Linked DNA regions of Homo sapiens: all the other regions are reported to be linked to region 1. The links are microRNA targets in miRTarBase. Many come from high-throughput screens and were not tested one by one. Region 1 holds a microRNA gene; each other region holds the end of a gene's coding sequence.
Evidence for each region. Region 1 holds the annotated microRNA hsa-miR-1304-3p (UCUCACUGUAGCCUCGAACCCC, at 1,731-1,752, opposite strand). A microRNA usually pairs through its seed, bases 2 to 8, with sites in the 3' UTR of a target mRNA and lowers its output. Matches are read on the target gene's strand: a 7mer-m8 pairs with bases 2 to 8, a 7mer-A1 pairs with bases 2 to 7 and ends in A, and an 8mer does both.

Region 2: the mRNA of ENSA is a reported target of hsa-miR-1304-3p. Seed matches in the 3' UTR shown: 7mer-m8 at 1,010-1,016.
Region 3: miRTarBase lists RREB1 as a target of hsa-miR-1304-3p. Seed matches in the 3' UTR shown: 7mer-A1 at 2,486-2,492 and 7mer-m8 at 1,697-1,703.
Region 4: the mRNA of ZNF561 is a reported target of hsa-miR-1304-3p. Seed matches in the 3' UTR shown: 7mer-m8 at 2,740-2,746.

Annotation. Positions count from the first base shown.
Region 1 is chr11:93,731,961-93,735,092 of GRCh38, forward strand. MIR1304 (microRNA 1304) reads right to left here and starts at 1,804; the gene lies at 1,714-1,804. SNORA1 (small nucleolar RNA, H/ACA box 1) reads right to left here and starts at 173; the gene lies at 44-173. SNORA8 (small nucleolar RNA, H/ACA box 8) reads right to left here and starts at 539; the gene lies at 401-539. SNORD5 (small nucleolar RNA, C/D box 5) reads right to left here and starts at 1,340; the gene lies at 1,268-1,340. It also overlaps SNORA18 and a transcript of TAF1D not described here.
Region 2 is chr1:150,620,117-150,623,248 of GRCh38, reverse strand. ENSA (endosulfine alpha) reads left to right here. Exons shown (of 4, transcript NM_004436.4): 4 at 390-1,124. The coding sequence ends at 405. Among named protein-coding and RNA genes, the nearest start is that of ENSA, 7.9 kb to the left of the region's middle. RefSeq lists a silencer at 302-596.
Region 3 is chr6:7,248,420-7,251,551 of GRCh38, reverse strand. It overlaps RREB1 (ras responsive element binding protein 1), which reads right to left. Exons shown (of 13, transcript NM_001003699.4): 13 at 1-3,041. The coding sequence ends at 2,584. Among named protein-coding and RNA genes, the nearest start is that of SSR1, 63 kb to the left of the region's middle.
Region 4 is chr19:9,607,557-9,610,688 of GRCh38, reverse strand. ZNF561 (zinc finger protein 561) reads left to right here. Exons shown (of 6, transcript NM_152289.3): 6 at 1-3,132. The coding sequence ends at 489. Among named protein-coding and RNA genes, the nearest start is that of ZNF561, 12 kb to the left of the region's middle.

The DNA of each region.
Region 1 (3,132 bases):
AAGTCAACATTTTTCTCCTACATTTTTACTCATAAACATAGCAAAATGTTACAGGTCTCATTGTCACCACTGCAATATGCATACTGTGATGGAAGCATAACCTGTCTCAATTTAGCCACATTAACTATTTTTGGACACCATGATCAACAGTGCCCATTCTCTAGAATGAGGCATTGTAAAAGTCTTTAAAGCTTAGTAGTGTATTTGTACGAAGTTCTTGTTATGCTGGCAGTGCTACTGATAGAGGGAAACAAGCAGAATCAATAGAAACAGAGAATCTTACCTTTTTACTGTAGGTGGTGGGGATCTACCTGGTTCTCAATTTGACACCCTGGAAAAAAAAGCATTGCTTACTATTTTAGAGTATATCAAACTGAACACTCTGAGAAACCTACACAAATACTGTATCAGTAGAAATACCAGGTTTAACAAGCACAAAGCCAAGAAAACCAACGATGCCAGATACTGAATTTCTATAGCACTGACCTTTGAACACCCTAGCAGGTGTAAACTGCTGAGTGCAGATACCATGCAGTGCAATTATGACTGAACTGTACAACTCGTATTCCCAAATTTGCAATATTGCTGAGAAATGCTTTCACAAACCTCTCAAATTCCTTTAACAAGTACAATAATTTGAGCTTTTTTCCTAATTGTCACTGTAATAAGGAAGCTACATTAACTACATTTTAAGCTACAACTCTAGTCTTTGCCTAATCTTTGCCCAGTCTCTCTATAAAACTTAAAGATGGAATATATACATGTAACTTAACAGATCAGACAACAAACGTCAAGCTCATTGTTGCTCAAACTGCCAGTTACACAAAATTCTTTTTATGTAATTCATATCCCTATTGATTCAACATATCCACACAGGTTTACGTGACTTTAGGATGAAATATGTGTAACTGCCAGTTGAATAATGATGCAAAGAACACAGGTAGTTTCGTTTGGTAGGTATAGACATGCAGTCTCTTCATTTTCCTTCTCTATACAAATATATACATTGTAATATTTTTGCCAGTATCTTACTAATTCTGTGTTATACCTGAAATACTGGGATGGTGTAATTTCTATTTTTCATCTTTTGAGTCCTTGATTATTATAAGTTAAATATTTTACTTACCTCTCAACATGAATGAGTTCAAATCACATTCATTCCTATAGAAAGTACCAATTAAAGATTTAGAAAGGATACATTTCCAGTTATTAAAACTAAAACCCAAGTATAAATTTAAGATCCAGTTTATTATACAGCCATATCCAGCTCTGTCAGAATTAAGTTTTAGTTCATGCCCGTTATCATTCAGCAGTTGAACAGTTAAATTCATCATCTGAACTGTAATCATTATTTCCCAAAAGATTATACTGTCACCAATTAAAACTTACCTAAGCGATCACTCAAGAATGGTACAGATGTGTGGAGTATGCCAATACCTAAGGTAAAAAAGTAGATTATCTGGTTTTTCATAACGTTTAGCAACCGTCTTTTTCAAACTTTTAGCAACTGTCTTGTAATTCCTTCCCACAGATCTAACAATAGTCCTGTGAGTAAAGTAAAACCACAGAGTTACTCTATGAGGCGTTTCCAACGATGTGCAGGCTACAGGAAAAGCCCCATCGGGATAGACCTCAACCACTATTTACAAGGTTTTGATTTTTTTTTAAAGACACAGGATCTGCCATGTCTTTTAAAAATCGTGTGATTCTTGCTGAATCACTTGAGCCCAGGGGTTCGAGGCTACAGTGAGATGTGGCAGGATCACATCTCACTGTAGCCTCAAACCGCTGGGCTCAAGTGTTTCTCCTGCCTTAGCCTCCAGAGTAGCTGGGGACCACAGGCACCACTGTGTCCAGCTAGTATTTATACACATAAATAACAAAGTCTAACACTCCATAGGAAAGAAATTATGAGCAGAAACTGCAATATGCTCTTACAATATTGCCAACTGCAGAAACTTCCTACTACGTTAATCACAAAAACAATAATTTCACAATCACGTTGTGCTTAGGAGCCAGAGGAATGATAAATAAAAAGTAACATCAAGTAGCTCCTTTACATGAACCAAAGGAAAAAGATTTAAACTTAAGATTTAAGTTTAAAGTCTAACTGTTGTTATGAACTTCAGTATTGCAACAGAGGATGTTGTTTTCCCAATTCGAAGATTTCAGCAAATTTTAATTCTTGGCTCAAAATTAATTGTCATCCATTATAAAATACAGGAATATAATGTGCCTGTAAGTTACGACTTTGGCATTATATAACTTTTAATCAAACTCTACATCATTCAAATTTATGAATTCTTATGACCTGTGTAATCATCTTTTATTATACTATATTTTGCATTAAACCATAAAATCCTCTGCCTCATTTTAGATTGTGCATTAATTCAAAATAATGCTGTAGGCTTCAAGTAGGAAATCCAAAGTTCTGATTATTGCTACAAACTAACAAATTCAGGACCCTCTAATGCTTGCAACTAAAATGAATCTGACACATCACTATAAAATGTGTGAATCTAGGATTCTTCTTTTCAGAAATCAGTATAAATGGGAATTAAAAGCATGGTAGAAATGTCCCTGAATAAAATGAAACTTGCTCTGACAACATACTGTTTCCTACACATAAACAAATATGATGTGAAAACTCAAATTGAGACATACCTTTAACTCCAGACACCATGTTCTCAAGATAAAAGCCTTTAAAACAAAAAGCCATTGTGTATATCATCAACATGAAATTGGAATGCAAAATTAATACTGCTGAGGATTTCCCTCATATCCCATGCTGTTTATCTATTCTACAGGCCTGGAATCAACCTTTTTTTCTTAAGAGACAGGGTCTGTCTTTGTTACTCAGGCTGGAGTACAGTGGTGCCATCAAAGCTCAGTGCAGCCTCCAACTCTGCCTCAGCCTCCCCCCTTTCTGAGTAACTCCAACTACAGGCACATGCCCCAGTACCCAGCTAATTTTTAAATTTTTGTGGAGATGTGTTTCTTACTTTCTTGCCTAGGCTGGTCTTGAACTCCTGGTTTCAAGCAATACTCCCACCTTGGTGTGGGGATTGCAGGCTTGACCCATTGCACCTGGCCTGGAACCAACCTTTATGGCTATCAATACTCCCATCAATC
Region 2 (3,132 bases), not on the chromosome of region 1:
AGTCACCACCTCATCTCTGTGCTACCTCAGTCTTTGCAAGTAGCTGTGGCCATGCCTCTGAAACAGCCTGCTCTGAGCCAGGCAGCTTACCCACCTGGAAACCTCCAGTTATTTTGATCTTATCTAAAGAATTATTTTTCTATGTTTGTTATCCATGGATATCCCAGAAAGGCAGATAACGTTGTTTCGTGGATAGGAAAAGACTGAAATTCTATTTTTTGATTTTTTTTGCAACTCCCTTATGGATAGGATTGAGACATGCCAGGTAGCCTAATGGTTGTTAAATGTGGAGGAATCATGGGGTAGAGACTGGGTTGGAGTTCAGGGTTTTTTTCCCCTATTACTTGACAGTGTTGTTTTTTTTTTTTTTCTTCTGTGTTCGTCCGCAGTGGCCAAGTTGAATGATGCTGCCCGGGGCTCTGCCAGATCCTGAGACGCTTCCCCTCCCTGCCCCACCCGGGTCCTGTGCTGGCTCCTGCCCCTTCCTGCTTTTGCAGCCAGGGGTCAGGAGGTGGCTCGGGTGTGGGCTGGAGAGGCAGAAGCCCTTTCCTGTTGGTGTCCCAGCACATGGAGCCCCTTGGGCTGAGCACCAAGACCTTGAACCTTTTTTGTTTTACCTTTTTTCCAAATAACAGTTGGGAGAAATATCAATGAAATTCTGGGGGTGGGGGTGGGGTTGAAAGGGTGGGGTGGGAGATATGGAGGAGTATGAATTAGGGCTTGGAGTTGGTAAAAACATTCCTGACTATCCTTCTTAACCACGTGGCTGATGTGGGGTAGGTATGAGGGGAAGGAAGTGGAGTAGCCTAATGAAAAGGGGTTCTAGTTGAGCTCTGTAGATAAATGCCTTGTTTCAGTGTGGTTGGAGACCTGGTGTCAGATAAAAGAAACTCCATCCGCACAGACAGATGCAAACAGCTCCTCTAGTTCTGCAGAGCTAGTTGAGAACTCAACATTAATCATTTTAAAAAGTACTGTCCTTGAAATAGATTTGCTGTGGGAAGAAGGGCAGTGAGTGTGGGAGAAAGGAGCCGTGAGCGTGGGGAACCCCACAGAGCCCAAAGGACTTTTTCAGTATTCGAAATAAACAAAACAAAAACCCATGAAAAAACCCAACCCAGAAATATTCTGAAGCAGTTGGTGTGTTTTATTGGGGTTTGGGAGGGGGAAGAAAACAATACTGAAGACATTGTTAATGTGAGATGCGGCTGAGTTCCCCAATACCATCACTTAGGAAAGGGAGCAGGAATGTTGGCATAAACCTTGCCCATCCCTTTGTTTCTGTAACCAATGTAGAAGGTGCATCAACCTCAGTTTGTGGCTCACAAAATGAGGCATTTAAGATATTTGATCTAAATGGTTTCTTGACACCTAAGCCTAGTCCAGGTTTAGCAGAAAAGGAGGCCCAGTCTCCTTTTCCCTCTGTCTTCCATTCCTTTTCAAGTTCCCATGTTTGTGAGGGAGAAATGTGACAAACCAAAAGAAATATATTATTTCTTTGTAATAAGCCAAAAGAAACTCAAGTCTTTCTGCTGGTGGCCAGCAGGAGGCAGAGTGATTTCTTTCCTCATGATGTGCCAATCTGCATTGCTGGAAACCTGCTACTGAAAGAAGTTAAAAGCTGCCTGTGAATGTAACGTACAAAAGAAAGGTTACCAAAGGAGAAAAAACTCCAGCGGGTGTACGGTGGCTCACGCCTATAATTCCAGCACTTTGGGAGGCCAAGGTGGGTGGATCACTTGAGGTCAGGAGTTTGAGACCAGCCTAGCCAACATGGTGAAACCCCATCTCTACTAAAAATACAAAAATTAGCCGGGCGTGGCGGCACATGCCTATAATCCCACTTACTTGGGAGGCTGAGGTAGGAGAATCGCTTGAACCCAGGAGGCAGAGTTTGCAGTGAGCCGAGATTGTGCCATTGCACTCCAGCCTGGGCGACAGAGCGAGACTCCATCTAAAAAAAATAAATGAATAAAATAAAACAAGTACAAATTTAAACTAGAGACACAAGTTAATGGTGTTTATTGTGGTGGGGTTAGTGAGCCATCCCATGATTTCCTCCTGAGTATGTTATCCCTGGTTTGTGTTTGCCAGCTGGGGAATGAGGTGAGGTCTATGAGGCTGAATGTGGGATCATTCAATTTCTTTCTTTCTTTCTTTTTTTTTTTTTTTTTAGAGGCAGGATCTTGCTCAGTCACCCAGAATGGAGTGCAGGGTGCAAACACTCACTGTAGCCTCAACCTCCTGGGCTCAAGTAATCTTCCCATCTCAGCCTCCCAAGTAGCTGGGACTACAAGCACACACCACCACACCTGGCTAATTATTTTTTGTAGAGATGAGGATTCACCATGTTGTCCAGGTGAGTCTCAGAACACAGGCTTAAGCACTCTTCCCATCTCAGCCTCCCAAAGTGCTGGGATTACAGGCATAAGCCACTGCGCCTGGCTGAGAATATATTTTCATCCTTTCTTTTGTAGAGAGGATCTCGTTTTGTTGTGTAGGCTGCTCCTGAACTCCTGGCCTCAAGCAGTCTTTCCACCTCAGCCTCCCAAAGTGCAGGGATTACAGGTGTGAACCACTACACCCAGCAGTTAGTGCAATTTCATTTTAATACAAGTGAGGAAATTAAGGTATAGAGATAAGTTACTTGTAAAGTAGAAAAGCTAGTTAGCTGAAGAGCTTGAGTTAGTATCTTAGGCTTTTATATTATTTCTTCCCACTATTCCTGGCTTCCCTGGTCCTCAATTTTAATTTGTGGCCTTAAGAAGCCTGGGGTGCCAAAAATGTTTGGGGCTATCTGTATTTCATGTTACTCCTTAGCCTTTTTTTTTTCCTTTTAGTTCTTCACCACTGCACACTTGGCAGGATGTATCCCATTTTAAAACTTGACAGTCCATCTCCTTCACTCCCATACTGTAGGGCTAGGCAAGCAAAGCAAACTGATTCTGCAATGCTTCTAATAGTTATTCCTGCTCATTATTTTAGCTAGATGTATTCTAAAGTCTTTATCCCAAAGAGTTGAATCAAAGGTTCTTCCACTCCTCCAACCTGATTGTGCTGACAAGCCACTAAGCTGAGCCATCTAATATACAGGGTGGCAGGGATGAAGTCACCGTTACTGTCCAACAGCTT
Region 3 (3,132 bases), not on the chromosome of region 1:
TAGTGATTGAATCTCAGCATCATGTCCATTAATCAATGAGAAAAAAAAAAAAAAAAAAAAAAGAGAAAAAACTTGCACCTCAAAAAACTTTTCAGAAGATCCATATATATATATTTTTTTGTAAAAGCCCTGAGAGAAGGAGAAAGAGAATCAAACAAAATGTATAGAAACAAATTAGCTGGACATGCAAACTAAGCTATGATTCACCCAGAGTTTAAACAAATCACAAATTTCACAGTTTAATATTGGGGGGTGGGGGAAGGGCAAAAACAACAAACAAATAATACGTTTCTCCACCTCACTAATAAAATGTGGCAAGACCTTATTGACTACGAGGGTACAGATCAAGGCTAAGTAAAGCTTTAAATCAATAGTGATTATTGCGAGCGGCAGCCCCAGCTACACACGTCGCTGGGAGCTGATTACTGCTACATCTCACCGCAGCGTAGAGTTTAGTCACAGCTTCTCCCCACAATATTGCAAGTTTAGTGTGGAGAGTCGCAAAGAAAAAACACAAGAAACCCCAAATAATAATAACAACAAAAACAACAATAACAACTGTAATAATAATAATAATAATAATAAAAACCCTAAGGGATGTATGAACTGGTTTTAACTAAGTAGGCCAAGGGATCATTGGTTCTGATTTGCATTCATCTCTACAGTAAATAAAACCTCGTTTTTAAACTGGTTCATACACCCCTAATACAGTTAAAAATCATATATACCTCAACCTTTTTTCCTTTCGTATGCGAAGATATCACTTTTCATTATCTCAAGAATATCTATCTTCCTGTGAAGTCTGGGAGGTTGGATTTCAGAAACTGGTGAAGTGGCGGAGAAAAGGGGGCGTGCACGTTTCTGTGTGAACAAGTCTATGTAAAGGAGGAGCACTGGGGCCAGAAAAGGCCAGGGGAAGGAAGCTGGGGTACAGGGGTGCCTCCCCAGGGGAAGGCAAGAGGCTCCATACACTGCAGCAAGCACAGGGGTCCCCAGCAGCAGGCTGGCTGGGGACCCCTGAGGTCTTGGCTGAGGGACCAGGAGCTCAGGTGCAGTGGGGTACATTCTCCTCCCTGCAGGCGGAGACAGTGAGGGAAGTCTATTGCCTGCACAGGATGCTCATGGGTAAAAATAACCCTGCCTTTTTGCATCCAGGGGTGTGGGCTATTTAAGAAACTAGAAACAGCACATTTATCTTCAAGCACCAACCCCACATCGCAGGAAGGTAAATATAAACCTATTTCTTATCTGACATCTTGCATGTGTAGTTTTATTACCAGTAGTAGTATTTCCTTGCTTTGCAAATGACAGTAGCACAGCTGGGTAAGGCTTGGATTAGGCTTAGCAGGAAGACTGGGAATACCTCGCTCACGAGTAATGTGCCTGGTCACTGGGTCACTGCTTTGCTTTCTCCAAAGTCATCTCTGCAGTGCTCCAGGCACGGCCCTGGCTTCTTGATGCCTGTTCCCTGGATGCATGCATCCTCACTCCACCCTCTCTGAGCTGCTCCTGGACCATGCTTGGGAAGACTGCTCACGGCCCCTTCTAAATTCTGCAGTGACAGAAGAAAGGCTTGTCTCATTACAGTAGAAGAGCTACCACCCGAGGGTGCCAACCACAACCGCAGGCACACGTTAACACGGGGACCTGGGTGCGGCACAGGTCTCCCAGGACAAATATTGCCCATTTGATTCTGCTCACTGCAGAGAACAGCAAACTGATGAACTAATAATAATAATAATAATAATAATATTAATAATACATATACTGAAAGGGAAGAGGAGGCAATCAAATATATCCTATCCGTGCATGTTTTCCATAGGTTAAGACGCCAGGGGAGTAACTCTTCTCTATAGTTAAGAATGGATGTCTTGAAACTTGAACAGTGACCATGTCTAATGCTGACAGACTGGAAATGGACATGAGGCTGAAGCTAGAATCTTCCCTGGTTTTGGCCTGAAACCATATTGGAAACCTTCATCAACCACATCCTGTAATACCAAGGACCAGATGACAGCTCCACCATGAAGCACAAAGAAAAAAGGAAAATGTCTATTTAAGAAATTATCATCTTATCCATCTTTCCTCTGGTCATTTACATGAAATTCACATCATTTTCTTCCAGTTATTGGCTATGGGTACCCAAGGGTATGTTTTTTCCTTCTGTTTCCAGCTCACAGAACAAACGGTGCTATCACAGATTCACAAGAACAAGCTCACACACACCAATACAAAATAACGCTAATGCTCAAATGAAGAGGTCCTCTCCAGACAATTCATTATAATATTTGTTTTGTTTAAGAAGTCATTTTGGAAAAATACAACACCCATGATAATATGGAGGGATCCGGTAAGTAGTTAAGGCACTGGAATCGGCACGGGCTGTGGCCTCCCGCGCAGGCTGCGGTAAGGCTATGGCACTGAGCGAGCAGCCACGCTCCTGCTTGTCTCTCTCTCTCTCTCTCTCTCTCTCTCTCTCTCTCTCTCTCACTCCTCAACAGCCAAAGGGCACTGAGGAAACCCCATGAAGTATAGACGCTTTGCTCTGCTGGCTTTTGTCTGTGCTGAGGGGGACTGAGGCTGTCACTCCATCCCCACGAGCTGGGAGGCGCCATCAGCTGTGGCCAGGATTGGGTGGGCAGGCCTCTTGCTGCGCGGCTCCAGCAGGTCCTGCCCCAGGGCCGCCGGGCTCTCTGGGTTAAGGTCACCCTGGCCAGGCTCAGACGGCCACCCTGCCGTGACCTTCTCCTCCCTGTGGCTGCAGTCCTTGGTGGCACTGGCCAAGCCCTCCTTCCGGCTCCGGGTGACAGCCATGTGGTTGCTGGCATTGGGAGCCAGCTCAGCCTCGTTCTCTGAGACGGCGTTGTTGCCGCTGTGGGTGGACTCATTCTCGCTGTCCTCCTCACCCCGCTCTTCCTTGTCGCTGTCCTTCCCGTGGTGTTTGGCATGCCTGGCTTTCTGGTGGATCCGCTGGTGGCGAACCAGGCTGTGCTTCAAGGTGAAGGTTCGCTCGCAGGTCTGACATTTGTATGGCCTTTCCCCTGGAACAATGGAAGAAAGAATTTCCATTAACCAAAAGGCACCAGTACCCACTGCACCCTGCTCTGCACAGGAAGAATGAGGCTCCCAGGC
Region 4 (3,132 bases), not on the chromosome of region 1:
ACTGAACATGTAAGAACTCACACTGGAATAAAACCCTATGAATGTAAGGAATGTGGCCAAGCCTTTGCTCAGTACTCGGGCCTTTCTATACACATACGAAGTCACAGTGGAAAGAAACCCTATCAGTGTAAGGAATGTGGGAAAGCCTTCACTACATCCACAAGTCTTATTCAGCATACAAGAATTCACACAGGAGAGAAGCCTTATGAATGTGTTGAATGTGGGAAGACCTTCATTACTTCTTCCCGTCGTAGTAAACATTTGAAAACTCATAGTGGAGAAAAGCCCTTTGTATGCAAGATATGTGGGAAAGCATTTCTATATTCCTCACGCCTTAATGTTCACCTGCGAACTCATACCGGAGAGAAACCCTTCGTATGTAAAGAATGTGGGAAAGCATTTGCTGTTTCCTCACGCCTAAGTAGACATGAAAGAATTCACACTGGGGAGAAACCCTATGAATGCAAGGATATGAGTGTTACCATTTAGCCCATCGGTTGCCATCTTTAATTATTGGCAATGACACCAAAGATTATCAGATTTGTCCTAAATGCCTTTTGGAGGTTGTAATGACTCATGGATTGGCCTTAGATACCATCCTGAGGGTCTGAAATTAAACCTACAGGTTCTGAATACAACATCATGGTTGCCTGAGTCTGGGCATCTGTGAAGAAGGGTCATGGATGGTGAGGTCAGTACTGCAGGCTGCCTCACCTTGGTGATTAGATTCCTAAGATCATAGCATTAACAAGTTGTGTATGAGATAAATCATGCAGATTGACCCCAGCCCCTGTTGGTTAGTGGCTGCCAGTGTGGCACATTTATGTCAAAATTTACCAGAAGCCAAGATGATGTAGGACCCCAAAGGTGGGTTGTTAAGAGATGCTCCTCCAAGGGTCTCTTCTGATCCCACGGATCCTGCAGAGCGTGTCAGGAATGAAACCATCCATAACTGCCAGTGCCCTTTCACAGCTGATTATTTCTGTGTCCCCTTGTAAAATCTAAGAAGTGTGACAGCCTTGCCTGTTCTGCCTTGTATGTCTATTTTAGATGGCACAATGTAAGTGGCAATGTCTCTTCTAGTATAATCCAGTCTCTCTTCTCACTTCTGTCAAGGTGGCTGATATAGTCCATGAATCCCACTCATGATCTCTTTATCAGATGATCGTTCAGCCACACTTTGAGGATTCTCTTCAGTACAAGTTTTCTAATTTTTGCATTATGGATAGGCTGAGAATTTTCCAAATCTCCAAGTTCTGGTTCCTTTTTCCTTAACAATTTTTTCTGCAATTCAGGTCTCCTTTTGCATTTTTGCTGAGACCAGCTGGGTCATGGAGACCCTGACCCAGCAGCTCTAGAGGAATTAAGACAAAGACACAGAAATAGAGTGCAGAGTGGGAATCGGGGCTCACAGCCTTCAGAGCTGAGAGCCTTGAACAGAGTTTGACCCACATATTTATTGACAGTAAGCCTGTGATAAACATTATTTCTATAGATTATAGATTAGCTAAAAGTATTCCTTACAAGAAAGAAAGGGACAGGCTCTGGCTTGTTATCTGCAACAGGAACATGTCCTTAAGGCACAAATCACTCATGGTATTGTTTGTGGTTTAGGAATGCCTGAGCAGTTTTCCAGTTTTCCACCGTGGGTGGGCCAGGTGTTCCTTGCCCTCATTCGGGTAAACCAGCAACCTCCAGCATGGGTGTCATAGCCATCACGAGCATGTCACAGTGCCGCAGAGATTTTGTTTATGGGCAGTTTCTCATGGCCTGTTTATGTCCAAATTTGGGGGGCCTGTTCTGAGCACATTTTCCTGTAAGCACTCAGGAAGAATGAAGCTTCCTGTGTCCTTTAACACTTTAAGTACAGATCTTAGTGATACATAACCAGTTTTATCTCTCTCAAGCTCTACCTTCCGCAAAGTGCTAGAATACAGTTCTGCCAAGTTCTTCACTACTTCGTATCAAGGGTTGTATTTTCTTTATTTCCCAATAGCATGTTCCTCATTCCCCAATGACACCTCACCAGGATCACCCTTACCAACCTTACTTCCAGCTTGCACATCAGAATTTTTCCAGCCTCATTTGTCAGTTTCAAATCTGCTTCACATTTTTAGTTTTTTTGTTTGTTTGTTTTTAATCTGCCTTAATGAGCTCAGGCCACTATCACAAAATACCACAGACCAAATGGCTTACAAATTTGTTAATTTTAAATAAATGAGGTTAAAAACAAATTTATATTCTCACATTTCTCGAGGCTGGAAGTCTGAGATCAGAGTGCCAGCATGGTCAACTTCTGGCGAGAGCTCTCTTCCTGGTATGTAAATGCCCACTTCCTCATGTCTTCACAGGAAGGAAACCAACAAATAGGTCTCTCTCTCCTCTCTCCTTTCTCCTCTCTCCTCTCTCCTCTTTCTCTCTCTCTCCCCACCATCTCTCTCCTTCCCCTCCCTCCCCCTCCCTCCCCCTACCCATCTCTTGACATCATTTCACGATACTTCTAAAGAGCCTATTTTCAGGCCGGGCGCGGTGGCTCACACCTGTAATCCCAGCACTTTGGGAGGCCGAGGTGGGCGGATCACGAGGTCAGGAGATCGAGACTGTCCTAGTTAACACGGTGAAACCCTGTCTCTACTACAAATACAAAAAATTAGCCTGGCGTGGTGGCGGGTACCTGCAGTCCCAGCTACTCGGGAGGCTGAGGCAGGAGAATGGCATGAACCTGGGAGGCACAGGTTGCAGTGAGCCGAGATCGCAGCCACTGCATTCCAGCCTGGACAACAGAGCGAGACTCTGTCTCAAAAACAAAACTAAAAAACCCTATTTTCACATACAGTCACATTGGGATTTGGAGCTTCAACATATGAATTTTCAGGGTTATCATTCAGTCCAAAGTACTTAATATGATTCTTTTCCGTTTCCACATAGACAATCACATAATCTGTAAATAATGACTCTTACTTTTCCACTTTAGTCGTTAGGTTATACCTATATATATATTTTCTTGCTTTACTGGACTAATTTCAACCTCCAGCACACCACCAATGAATAGCAGTAATACCAGCATAATTGTCTGCAGTTCTGCTGAGATACGTGCTCTATTTTATTGGCTTGGCTGTAGGTTTTTATTTT